2 linked regions of the Homo sapiens genome follow. The protein of the gene in region 1 interacts with the protein of each later gene in a pairwise test. Each region holds a gene or a part of one and is shown on either strand. Other genes may lie near its edges.

The links.
Region 2: the proteins of TMEM256 (region 1) and MEP1B interact in a protein complementation assay, tested with the Homo sapiens proteins (one study listed by IntAct).

What each region holds. Positions count from the first base shown.
Region 1 is NC_000017.11:7,402,198-7,408,887, reverse strand, and holds TMEM256 (transmembrane protein 256 precursor), read left to right. Parts: upstream 1-4,790; 5' UTR 4,791-4,803; coding exon 4,804-4,888; intron 4,889-5,198; coding exon 5,199-5,230; intron 5,231-5,497; coding exon 5,498-5,578; intron 5,579-5,678; coding exon 5,679-5,822; 3' UTR 5,823-5,913; downstream 5,914-6,690. Other genes in the region: NLGN2 (neuroligin-2 precursor), read right to left, coding at 176-632.
Region 2 is NC_000018.10:32,199,999-32,207,275, reverse strand, and holds part of MEP1B (meprin A subunit beta isoform 1 precursor), read right to left. Parts: intron 4,384-7,277; coding exon 4,266-4,383; intron 3,095-4,265; coding exon 2,916-3,094; intron 25-2,915; coding exon 1-24. UniProt on the Homo sapiens protein: Membrane metallopeptidase that sheds many membrane-bound proteins. Exhibits a strong preference for acidic amino acids at the P1' position. Known substrates include: FGF19, VGFA, IL1B, IL18, procollagen I and III, E-cadherin, KLK7, gastrin, ADAM10, tenascin-C.

The sequences.
Region 1 (6,690 bases):
GGAGGCACCCTTACAATCCTCAGGGGGCACGTAGAGGTTGCAGGGACACTCCGTCCCTCACTGCCCCCACAAAGGCCCAGCTCTGAGCCCTAGAGCGGTGCCAGTGCCTGAGGGTCTGCATGTGCGTTTGTGGGCTGTGTCCACGGGGTGCCCGGCTTTGTGCCCGCGCCCTTACCGTCCTCGGTGGGCACGTAGAGGTTGAGGTACAGGCAGTCCTCGCTCTGGTTCTGCACGTAGGTGGCGGCCGCCTCCAAGTTGTCGGTGAACCACACAGGCAGCATGATGGCGGGCAGCGCCCCGTGCAGGTTCTGCGGGCAGGCGGGCGGCAGGGTGGTGGCGTTGCGCACGCCGGGCCACGAGGCGGGCGCCTCAGGCGGCTGGAAGCGGCGGGCGCCCAGGGGCGGCGTGGCGTAGGGCACGCCCAAGAACTGCACGACGGGGCCCAGGATCTCGTTGTTGAGCTCGCGCCGCACACCGCGCACTCGCCCGTAGGCCGTGTTCACCACCGGGAAGCGCTCCTCGCCGAGGCTGCCGAGGCCCAGGCCGGGGCCGCCCGGGGCGCCGCCGCCGGGACCCCCTCCCCCGCGTTGAGCCCCCGCCAGCCCCACCAGACACAGCGCCAGGAGCCACATGCTGATCGGGGGACCCCCCCTCCCTCCCTGGGACCCCCCCCCCTCGGAGAGAGAGAGAAGGGGGGGAGAGGGAGGGAGGCCCCCCTCGCCCCAGGAGGGAGGAGGGGCGGGGGGAAAGGAGGGAGGAGGGGGTTGGGGAGGGACCTGGGTTAGACTGGACAGAGAAGGGGTCTGTTCCTCTCCATGGAGGGGGCACGGGGTGGGGAAGGGGAAGGAAATGGGAGAAGGTGAAGGCAGGCCCGACCTGCGGGGGGTGGAGCGAGAGGGGCAGGGAGGCAGGATACAGACAGACGGACAGACAGAAAAATACAGAGGTGGAAGAGGGCAAGGGAAATTGGATGGGGCAGACAGAAAGGAATGGGGAAACAGAAGAGACAAGTGGTTAGTGACCTGGAATTCAGACCAAGTTGCCCCCTTCTCCCACCCACAGGCCCCCTGACACCTCCCCACTCCCACCCAGCAGCCCTTCTCCCCTCAGCAGACGCCTAGGTTGGGGGTGGGGCCCAGATGTGGTTCAAGTCCAGGACCCAGCCAGAGGAGAGGCGGGTCAGCTCTCCAGACCCAGCATGCTCCCTTCCAGCTGATGTATCCCTCCCAGGCAGGTTCTCCTCAGGGACTCAGGAGTCCCAGCTCCCACCTCCCTGGGAGGGAATGAGGTAGACAAGGAAGAGAAAACAAAAATACCAAGTCATTAATTAGCTGGAAGAGGCAGGTTTGTTTATATGTGTTAATTACTCCTGAGCTGTAATTTCATGGCGCTGAACCCCCACCCCAGGCCAGACTCAGGCCTTTCTTGGGACTGCACAAACCTAGCACCTTATCCCCACTTCAACACACCATTCGCTAAGGATTTGTGCTGCCTGCGACCCCTCTCTCCCCAGACTCTCTCCATTTCCTCCGTCAGAAGTTGGGGTACCTTGAGGCTGGGGTTAGAGTAGGGAGGGGACGCTGGAGGGGCAAATCCAGGGACAGATGCGTGATCCTGCAGCCGGTTGCCGGGTGACGGGATGCTGCCCCGCAATGTTACCTCGGCAACGGGCTGCAGCTTTAACCCTGGAGGGGGGTTCTGGAGGAAGACGGGAAGGGGCTGGCTTGGTTTGGTGGTCCATTCAGGGCATGAAGGGGAGGGCAAAGGCGTGAGTCAGAATGCAAGAGTTCCCCCCAACCTTAACATAGAGGAAGAAGTATATATGTTGAGAGGAGGGGGAGATTGGGGGCACCAAGAACGCTAAAAGCCCTGCCTGTTGGCCAATCAAAGCCTAGCCTTAGTGACCAGGCCTCTGGCTTGGGAGAGGGGGTGCTGAGGTGGGCTTGAAGAGACATCACAGGAGCCTACTGACTGCCCCCCTCCAGCAATTTCAAGCAACCTTGGACCCCACCACCTTTTCATCTTTGCAAGCCATTGTGACCCATGTCCTGGGGGCAACACTGAGCTTTCTTCTCTTCCCATCCCAACCCATCCATTCACCTACCCTTCCCCTTGCCACCCCCCCTACAGTTGCTGCTCTGATGCCTGGGTGCTCAGGGCAGCAGGGGCCAGCCAAGGGAGAAGATCAGACCGGAGGGGCAGACACCCAGGTCATTTCGGCAAGCCCCCCCCCCGCCCCCCCACCAGCCGCCAGAGCTGTTTGCTGACGCGGGGTTTTCAGAGCCAGGCGCCAGCCCGCGGGTGGCTCTCTGCAGGTGTCAATTTATTCCAGAGATGAGGACACAGGAATCCTTACCACACACACCCAGTCATGCCCCCTGCCTTTCAGCTTCTCTAAGGCTCCTCTATTCCTCCATCACCTGGAGGTGGCTCGGGGCTGATTCCCCCAGGATCTCCTTTTCCTGTGCCAGACTGGGCTCAGCTACCATGGCCTTGCTGCCCCCTCCCCCTCCCCACAACAAGATCTGCCTCAGTCACCCTCTCCTCTTGAGGGTACTCTGGGCCCCTGGCCTCCTCCCACCAGCTCCGCTCCCTCCTTCCCTCCCACTGGAGGCCCCCCCATCTCTCTCCTCTCCGTAGTGCTCCCTGGGAGCATCTTTTGTGGGCCTCTTCCAGCTTGCCCCAGCTCTTGCCTTCAGTCTCTCACCCTCGGTCTTTTTACATCTTTCTCTTCTGTATCTCTCTCCTTGGTGTTTCTCATTTCTTTCTCTCTCTCCAAATGCCTTCCCCAAATTTCCCCCTTAAGCCTTCTGTCTCTCTCTCCTGTCTTTCCCCATCACTGTCTCCCCCATTTTCTCTCCTCATCTCTGTCTGCCACATCTTGCTCCCTCCTCCTTCTCCCTATCCCTCTGCCTTCTCTCTCCATTCCTGCCCAGGCCTGACTCCCCCAGCCGGGGAGAGTTGAGGGACGGGGGCTCAGGCCGCAGGCCCCCCCTTCCTGCAGTGGTGAAAATGGCTTGGCTGGGAAGGGGAGAAGGAGGGGGAGGGGGAGATGGGAACACACGGGGTCTGTGGGCCCATTCAAAGGATCATTCATGGACTGGAGAGAGGCAGAGACAAAGAGACCAAGACGCAGAGACACGGCGAGAGCATCCCTAGGCGGAGACACGCAGACAGAGCAGGCTGGGGGAAACCAGGCGCAGGGAGGGAGATGGGGAGAGGGAGACCCCAGTGGACCGCCACGCAGCCCCCTCCACCGACCCGGCTTAGGTCCTACCTGGCTCAGCCCTGGGGCCGTGGTGCCTCCATCCAGGGCTCCGAGTGGGGGGCGAAAGGCCTTCGGGAGGGGGCGGCGGCCTCTGAGCCCCCGCGGCCCCGCAGGCCCAGCCCCCGCCCGCAGCGCCTCACCCGGCGGGGGAGGGGGATCGCCCCAGCCCCGGGGGGCGGGGCCGGGATCCAGTCGATCCCCGGGAAAAGGAGAGCTAGGGGATGGGATCAGGGGGAGCCCGAGAACAGGGAACCCCGCAGTAGGGACGATAGAGAAAGGAGGGGGCAACGGGACAGGACTAGATTGAGGATCCGCTGGTTCCGTGGGCCGGCTTCGAGGGACCAGAAGGCGGTCCAGGCGGAGGATCCTAAGGATCGGGTGCTGGAGGAGGAGTCCACGTTAATCCCCAGGGGCCCGGGGCCCGGGAGCGCAGGATCCGCGGTGCAGGGGCAGGGATCCAGCCGGAATCCTCGGGGAGGGGGAGGGATCTAGTCGATCCCGAGGGCGGGCGTGAGGGGGAGGTCCGGGGAGTCAGAGGAGGGCGGGAGCCGAGTCCAGAGCCCCGGGGCGGGGGTCAGCGCGGATCCTAGGAGGGAAGGCGGGGGTGAGGGGAGGCTTCGAGGGACGCTCAGCAGCCGGGAGGCCCGGACTCCTGGCTCCGCGCGCCAGGGCCGGCCCGCCCCGCGTCCATCCCAGCCCGAGAGTGATGATCCGCCGGCGGAGCAGCCGCAGCAGCCCCGCGCGTCACCGCGCGGCCGCCTCCCCCGCCCCCTGCCGAGAGAGCGGCGCACACCCCCCGCTCGCACCCCCCGCTCGCACCCGCCTGCCCGCCCGCCCTCCGGAGAATGGGGGGATTGGAGATGGTGGGAAGAGGCGGGAGCGGACAGACGGACAGATGGACGTAGCGGGCCAGGGCAGGGTGGAGACATTCCCCCGGATCTCCCACCCTCGGGGCTCTCGCGGTCTCGGAGGGCTGGCGGGGGGGAGAATATCTTAACTACAGGGGGCGGGGCATCATACAAAGAAGGCGGAGCCTTCAGACATGGGGGAGGGGCCATTTGTGCAGTGGGCGGGGTTTACTGGCAATAGGTGGGGCTTTGCTATCTTTCGGGCCGCCTCTTTTTGGTAGTGGGTTTGATTTGAAGCTGAACAGGAGGAGCCTGTGGAAAAAGGGGCGGAACTTTGAGAGAAGACCGGGATCTTTGGAAATTGGCCGGAGCATGGGGGTGGGGGGTTCGAAGAGGCGATCAACTTGGAAAGTGGGCCAATCCTTGACGCAAATCCCCCTAGTCCCGCCCTCAACCCCGCCCCCCCACTGCTTAGCTCCTCTGTTCCTAATTGGTGCTGGTTTCTCCGCCCGCCAGACGTCTTCGCCACTCTGCAGCGGTTTTACAAAGGCGGGTGAAGAGCGCAATGCTGAAATGAACACGGCCCGGATTGGGCGCCTGTGAACCTTATTTGCATGGGCGGTCGGGATTGGCTGGCCTCTTGGGTGGCCTGGGCGGCGTTGGTCCGGTGCGTCCTGTTCTACAGCTATGGCCGGGCCAGCTGCAGCTTTCCGCCGCTTGGGCGCCTTGTCCGGAGCTGCGGCCTTAGGCTTCGCTTCCTACGGGGCGCACGGTCAGGGGGCTGGGGACGAAGATGGGACTGTACTTGGGGCGTCCTCTGGGGTCTGCTGCAAGGGCGTAACCTATGGGAGGTGCCCGGCCTCTCGTTTATCAGACAGTCCGCGGAGCCCTAAACCTTTTAAAGTCCCCCAGCTGGGTCCAATTGGTTCCCAGTACTGCCCGAGCGTGTTCCCACCAATCGGAAGCTTCCTGGGGCGGGGGGGGGGGTGCCCTTTCTCGCCAATGTCCACCTGGGTCCCCCCGGATTGGGGGCGGTCAGGGCTGGCACTAGGACCGCTAACCTTTGCTTCTTTTCTCCACAGGCGCCCAATTCCCAGATGCCTACGGGAAGGAGGTGAAGTAACTGCGCTGGGGCTCCCTGACTCGTGGGTCTACGAAGGCACAAAGTCTGGGGTCCCTGGGGGAAGTGGGCGGGGAGAGGGTGGGGCGAGCCGCGGATCTCTGGAGCAGCAAAGGCCAAAGGCTCTGTAAGCCAAAGGCCTGGGATCAAGCTGGGACTTCAAGGGTGGGGTGGGGGAAGGAACTTTGGTCCCTTGTGTCATCAGGGGATCTCAGTACCTGTATTGCCTACGACATCCCTTCGTTTCTGTTTTTCTTACAGCTGTTTGACAAGGCCAACAAACACCACTTCTTACACAGCCTGGCCCTGTTAGGGGTGCCCCATTGCAGAAAGCCACTCTGGGTAATCTTTCCCTGCGCCTAACCCTGACCAAGCCCCACACACTCCCTCTCAGCCTGCCCTGTTCTTAACAATCCTGTTTTCTGTGCTGTGTCTCCTTCAGGCTGGGTTATTGCTAGCTTCCGGAACGACCTTATTCTGCACCAGCTTTTACTACCAGGCTCTGAGTGGAGACCCCAGCATCCAGACTTTGGCCCCTGCGGGAGGGACCCTGCTACTCTTGGGCTGGCTTGCCTTGGCTCTTTGAGCTCCCTTTTGCTTAATTACTGGGTTTTCTGGGCAGTTTTTTTTTTAAAGAGTTGGAGTAAGAAGAGGATTAAAAAGGAAAGGCAAATAAACTTTGGAGTCTTTGTTCATCTAACCTCTTGGAGGACGAAGGGTGGGGATTCAACCTCTGAACTCCCTCCATTTCCTAAGACTTAATCAGTGAGCCTTAGGTCTGGGGATTCTGGTCACTTTAAGTTAACTTATTATAATGTTCTTACCCTGGTGGGCATCAAAGTCATAAAGAATGCTTGAAATAACACAGATTCCTACTGAAGCACTCTTTCGGGCCTGAGAATCTGTATTTTAATAAGCTCATCTTGTGGTTCTGATGCATACTAGGTTTTTAATTTTATTATTATTATTATTATTATTTTGAGATGGAGTCTTGCTCTGTCGCCCAGGCTGGAATACAGTGGCGCGACCTCGGCTCACTGCAACCTCTGCCTCCCAGGTTCAAGCGATTCTCCTGCCTCGGCCTCCTGAATAGCTGGGATTACAGGCGCCTGCCACCATGCCCAACTAATTTTTTGTATTTTTAGTAGACACGGGGTTGTGCCATGTTGGCAAGGCTGGTTTTGAACTCCCGACCTCAGGTGATCCGCCTGCCTTGGCCTCCCAAAGTGCTGTGATTACAGGTATGAGCCACCACGCCCGGCCTGTTTTTATTTTTATTTTTATTTTTTTGAGACAGAGTTTCACTCTGTTGCCCAGGCTGGAGTGCAGTGGTGCGATTTTGGTTCACTGCAACCTCCACCTCCTGAGTTCAAGTGATTCTCCTGCCTCAGCCTCCCAAGTAGCTGAGATTATAGGTGCATGCCACCATGCCTGGCTAATTTTTGTATTTTTAG
Region 2 (7,277 bases), on another chromosome or scaffold:
AGGTGTTAAAATTGTGCTCTCTGCCTAAAGGATAAATAAAAAATCTTTACTTGATGTTCACAAAATTCAGCTTATCTTACTCCAAATACTGCTCACTTAGAAATGGAGAATATAATAAACTCAAGCAATTTTTGCTACAACTAACAACAGTTTCATTATTCCCATCTTACAATATAATATTCAAGCTTAGAACTGTGATACCAGCAGTCACACTGAACATATCTAAGGTTCTATTGCAGCCCATAGTTAGGACATTGGCATTTAGTCTAAGGCTGTAAAAATTGCTCGTGGAAAGGAGGATTCTAGAAAGTGCTGCTAACCAGCCTGGGCAACAAAGTGAGACCTCATCTCTAATAAATATTTTAAGGCCGGGCGTGGTGGCTCACGCCTGTAATCCCAGCACTTTGGGAGGTCGAGGCAGGCGGATCATGAGGTCAGGAGTTCGAGACCAGCCTGACCAACATGGTGAAACCCTGTCTCTACTAAAAATACAAAAATCAGTCCATTGTGGTGGTGCGCACCTATAATCCCAGCTACTCAGGAGGCAGAGGCAGGAGAATTGGTTGAACCCAGGAGGCGGAGGTTGCAGTGAGCCAAGATTGCACTACTGCACTCCAGCCTAGGTGACAGAATGAGACTCCATCTCAAATAAAATAAAATAAAATAAATATTTTAAAAATTAGCCAGGCATGGTGGTGCATGCCTGTAGTCCCAGCTACTCCGGAGGCTGAGGTGGGAGGATTGCCTGAGCCTGGGAAGTCGAGCCTGCAGTGAGCTGTGATCACGCCACTGCACTCCAGCCTGGGTGACAAAGTAAGACTCTGTCTCAAAAAAAAAAAAAAAAAGTGTTGTTGAACCAGTCAGGGCATTGGCCAGCAACGATGGCAGGCTGAGGACGTCCACAGTAGATGGAGATGGAAGTAAGAAGGCTTTGAAGGGATGGTGAGATGAAACCTGGGAATGATAACTTTCTAGTTATCCTACAGAGGAGTCATTAAAAAGCATTGACATGCAGTTATTGACTAACCATAATTCATGGTTACTGGAATAGGTGTAGATGTATTTAAAGCACAATGAACCAGCCTGGCCAACATGTTTAAACCCTGTCTCTACTAAAAATACAAAAATTAGCCGGGTGTGGTGGCGGGCGCCTATAATCCCAGTTACTCGGGAGGCTGAGGCAGGAGAATCACTTGAACCCAGGAGGTGGAGGTTGCAGTGAGCCAAGATCGCACCACTGCACTCCAGCCTGGGCAACAGAGCGAGATTCTGTCTCAAAATAAATAAATAAATAAAGCATAATGACTATAGTTAATAATAATGTATATTTCAAAATTGCTAAGAGAATAAACCTCAAATGTCTCACCATAAAAATGATAAGTGAGGTGATGGCTATGTTAAGTAGCTTGTTTTAGTCATTCCACGTTGTGTACACATGTCAAAATATCACTGTACCACATAAGTATATACAATTATGATTTGTCAGTTTAAAATAATAATAAAAAACAAAAATGAATATATTTAGAGAAGACATTCAGGCCATTTAGCATTATACTAATGGGCAACTGATTTCAACTTGAAATGGAATGATTCTGTGGACACTTTAAGGTGGTTCTGATCTCCAAAACATAAAGATGTGTTATCAAATGTGAGCAGAAGTTTAGATCAAAAATAAGACTTTGGGAATCCTAAGGAGTGTGGCTGTGGATTAAAGCTAAACACTGCTGTTTCTCTAGAAATCTTTTAGTTTGCTGCTATGCCTGACCGCATTTGAGATAAGCAGAGTCGGGGGATAAAGAGCAAGAGCTGTGATTTCAAGAAGTGTGGTGTCAGGGGACCTTGTATAGGGCACTCCTCACAGTGCCTCAGACATAATAGCAATGCCCTTTCCTCTGTCTCGCCCCACACAGGCAGGACAGATGAGGAAGCTGAGTGTCACTGTGGAATGTGGAAAACATGAGCTCTAGTCAGACATAGTTATTAAGACTTTGTGACTTTGAACACAAAATCACAAACAGTTCATGCTACTCAACTATTACTGAAAATTGTTCCATGAAACAATAAATCCAAATACTCTACAAGCTACTCTGCAAAAAGAAAAAAGAAGACCATGATCAAATCATTTTGGGAAATGCTCCTTTTCTTAGAGATTTACAATTCCTGTCAACCCAATAAACACTCAGAGCAGTATAGCAGGATAAGTAAGTCTAATTTCTTTTAACCTAGGTGTTATGCCTTGAATATGTCCCCCCAAAAGCATGTATTGGAAACCTAATCCCCAGTGCAACAGTGTTGGGAGGTGGGGCCTAATGAGAGGTAATTAGGGCATGGGCTCCGTCTCATAAATGGATTAATCCCATTGCTGCAGAAGTAGGTTTGCTACTGCAGGAGTGGATTCCTTGTAAAAGGACAGATTTGGTCCTGTTTTTTCTCTCTGACTCTCCCTTGACCTCTGCCCTCTGTCATGGTATGTGACACAGCAAGAAGGCCCTCATCAAATGCCCACCCCTTGATTTTGGACTTTCCAGCCACCAGAACAATGAGGAATAAATTTCAGTTCTTTATAAATTACCCAGTCTGTGGTGTTTTGTTATAGCAGTGCAAGATGGACTAAGACTTGGGGATTTGCAAAACTAATTTGGCCACAGACTCCGTTCCACATAATACTCATGAACATATTGTGGGACTGAATATGCTTTAAGAACCACAAAACCAGTTTCTAGAGCATATCTAGCTCATATGGGTTCTGGAATACTAGTGCTCCAATAACTCAGAATGAGTTCAAGCTGAATGAATTAAGACATCAAAACATCAAAGTTTTAAAATTATTAACAGTTGCCACAGATGACAAGAGAGGACACATGCTTAGAAATTCAGTCCTTAACTAAAAACATAGGAAAAAAAGAGAAATGTACCTGACAGAATTCTGTCCCACATTATCCTGACATAGTCATCCCGGTCAGAACGCGACTGCTCATGCCAGAATCCCAGAGCGTGGAGGAACTCGTGTTGAACTGTTGCTATTCGGTCACAGTTTGCCCCGATGGAAAGTTCTTGCTTCCCAACCCGCCTATTTCCTACTGAAGACCAGCAGCTTACAGGAGAGTTTACAAGAAAGGGGGAAGAGAATGTTACAATCTGAGGTCTCAGGGCAGAATCGCCACTGCCTAGTCCACTTCATTACCCACTTCATTACCCACCTTTGCTCTTACATCTGAACACTGTGCGTTTCTCTCATAACCCAGGTGACATAGTTTGGACAATTGTCCCCACTCACATCTCATGTTGAACTGTAATTCCCAGTGCTGGAGGTGGGACCTCATGGGAGGTATTTGAGTCATGGGACGAACCACACATGGCTTGGTGCTGTCTTCGCGATAGTGAGTTTTCATGAGATCTGGTCATTTAAAAGTGTGTAGCACCTCCCCCTCCCCACTCTTTCTCTGGCTCCTGCTTTTGCCATGCGACATGCCTGCTCCACCCTCACCTTCCACTATGATTATAAGCTTCCGGAGGCCTCCCCAAAAGCTGAGCAGATGTCAACACCATGCTTCCTATAAAGCCTGCAGAACTGAAAGCCAGTTAAACCTCTTTTCTGTATAAATTACCGAGTCCCTGGTATTTCTGTACAGCAATGCAAGAATGGCCTAATATACCAGGTATTGTATAATATTAAAAAACCTTACAGACCAGGTGATCTTTAAAGAACTTGCCCTAACACCAAATATTACATAGGAGCAAATCGTCCTCAAGGTGGTCTAGACCTGGTTTTTCTTGTGAATTTCAAAGTCTTTGAGCTCCTCGTTATGCCTGTGCCCATTAACAAGGGTTTTACAGGGACAGCAACCACTCAGAATTGCTGAGCTCAAGACAAATAATACTGTCGCCTTCTTAACCCAAGAAATAAGAGTGGTTAGGTTAAAATAAGCTTAAGCACAGACATGGACACACATAAATACACATGTTTTTTACTTGAAAGGGATAAAGAGTATGTAAATTACAAACGGGCTGAAATTCACAAGGTTGTGGGTCTGATGGCATGCAATCCCATCCACTTTCCACTTTGTCTAAAGGCGGTTACATGTATGGGAATATAATTTCTATGTCTACAAAAACTAGATCCAGTTGTTTTTTACTCTCCAGCAACTAGCAAGAAAGTCCCCACCCCTTCCTAAAGGTCAGAGCCTAGGATGATTGCTGCAATGTAATGTCCCAGGCACTAGAGTTCTCCTTAGATGCCTTAGAAGACTAAGTCTGCAACTTACCCACTGCCCTTGAACACTGATATATAGTTTGTTTCTCCAGCCCAAGGCTTAAAGTCAATACATGTTTTAAGGCGATAACGTTCAAATGCATTGAGGATAACTCCCTTAGCATTCATTTCTGAAGGAAGAAAACAAACAAAAATAAGCTTATTAAAACAATCACCACTGAAAAATCTTCCATGGAAGCAGGCCACTGCAATATATTGCTTATCATGAGTTAGTCCCTTCATGAATGTTGAGTCTTTTATTTTTACAAAAATTAGAATTCAGTACCCATTGAATATCATATACAGTATCTGCTTATTCTTCAGATCCCTTATTTGGCCTTATATTTCTCTAGCACTCACTCACTAATGGTGCATTACTAAACAATAAAAATGCATCTTTACCTCAGAGAACATATCCATTGGATCACAGGCAATCAAAATAAATAATCACCATCACGTACTTCATCTGAGAAGCCATAATATGTATTTAAAGCCACACAGCTGGGCTTTTAATCTGAGGATCTTCAGATGGGAGAGTCTATGAATACCCTGAAATAGTATGCAAAGTGTGTATGTGTGTGTGTGCATATCTACAAATGCAAAGTGCATTTTCTAGAGAGAGCTTTCATGAGGTCTGCAAGTGAGTTCAGGGCCCAAAATAAGGGTAAGAGCCAATGCTCTGGATATAAGAGTGATATGGATATGGAGCTCAAAGAAGGCAGAGGTGTGGAAGAAACAACATGCAGGAAAAGAAACTTGTGAGTGACCAGGAGGAACGGGCTGTATCAGATGCACATGGAGAGGCATCACATGGGCCAGGTCCTAGTGACGTGAAAGATGGGAGCCTGCCAGGAGGTGGGAGACAGTATGGCAGAGGGGAAAGTGCTTGGACTTTGGAGCCAGACACACCTAAGTTCTTCCCTATCCTCACCACTCACTTTTGACATAAAACTTTTGCCAATTCAATCAACCTTTGGAGCTTTGGTGTTATTATCAGTTAAGTGAGGAAATAAAATCAACTTTGCAGGATATTGTGAGGATAGTAAGAGAAAGTAAAGGTGAAGTTCCAAGTAAAATTAGCATTTGTCAAATGTTCATTTCCTTTCTCCCTTCTAGAGTAACCATTGCATAGACATTCAAGGAAGATTACTTGGTATGCCTCTGTTGAGGCAGGTCTAAGAAGATCAAGAACAGGATTCACATAGGGAAGACCCTAAAATCCATAAGTTGTAAAAGGCACTAAGTTCAGACTTTTACAATACCACATAAGTAATACACTATCGTTATAAATAAGTTAAAAATTGATATGAATAAAAAGAAATTTAAAATCCTATCATCCAGGAATAATCAATCACCCTTACCATACATTTTGCCTTTGAATACATATATAACATACATATGTTAATATTTCTATAAAAAATAAAGTCATCTACATAGCATTTTACCAACTATTTTTTCACTAAATATTATGTCATCAAAATATTTTTTCATCATTATTCTTTTTATCATTTTAATGAATAGAGGATTACAAATTGGATCCATTGGACATTGGATCACAGGCAATCAAAATAAATTGCCACCACATACTTAATCTGAGAAGCTATAATATGTATTTAAAGCCTCACAGCTGGGCTTTTAATCCGAGGACGCTGAGATGGGAAGGTCTATGAACACCCTGAAATAGTATGCCGTGTGTGTGTGTGTGTGTGTGTGTGTGTGTGTGTATCTACATATGGCTGTTAACGTTCAAAATGTTCTGTCCTATAAGTATCATATTTGGGTCATTATTTCAAATGTAATATTTCCTTCAAATAAGGTATGATAATACTGACCACCATATCACTGTTTTAAACAGAATGTAAAAGAGCATACTAGTTTAGGCCATTTATCAAAACTTAATGAGGATAGTTTCTTGAATTAATAAATAAAGTAACACGTGAAAGCTTTATAAACACTGAGGCCCTTTACCAAGATAAGATCTTTGTTTTCCATATGCCTTTATTTACTGAGGGCCTTAGTTAACCTTGCGTTATAGATGCAGAAAGCTCCACTTGGAACCATGCCAGGCTTTGGAAAATGAGGCAAGTTGCTGGCAATCCTAGGAGTTCAGTAAGCAGCTGTTCAGGATTGTTTCCCCTTAGTAGCCCCTTCAGGTTTCTAGCACCTTCCCCTTCATTTCCATCCCCAACTCTTTACCCTCAGCCTCCCCCACTGCCTTTTCTGCCTTGGTGCTAAGGCAAGGAATTATAACTTAGGCCCTGGAAACTATAAATGGCTGCTATGAGTATTACTCCTTTCAGGGAAGTTGCATCTACCAGCCAGGTAACATCTGAAGTTCAAGCTCAAAGACTACAACCCTACTGGTAGAATTTCACAGTTTGACCTACTAGAATCTGAGTAATAGGGCCTTCCAGAAATCAACCCTTCATAGGTATTTATTTTTGCTACCTGTAAGAGTGGCCTTGCTTAGTAATTTTCTTAGTCTGAGTCATTTGAAGATGGTATACATTTCTGAAACGTAAGGATACTTTTCTTAATTTGAACATAGAAAACAAGTTGAATTCTACAATATTAAACAAAAGTATTTTCTAAATAAGAAATAATCAAAATCACATAATTGAAAAAAATTGTTCTATAAAAATTTGAAGTTTGATTCTATTATAAAGACTATACAATATGAAAAAATGCAATAACATTAAGTGAAAAAATTAGAACAAAAGATTTAAGACATCATAGTTATAACTATGTAAAAATGTGCACAGTTTGGATGGTAGGATCTAGGCTGAATTTTTACCTAACATTTTTCATTTATATATATACATATGCTTATCAATTTATTTCAAAAATGTTATTACATATAATACGCCAGAGACTATGGTAATCCTCCAATTTGCAAGATGAAAAATAGCTCTTATCCTCAAGGCATTCATTATGTTGTTTATAATGTTGTTTAAAAAATAAATAAAGCTCATGGTTAAATACATGGCAAAAAAAAAATAGCCTAAGATATATATAAAATTAAAGC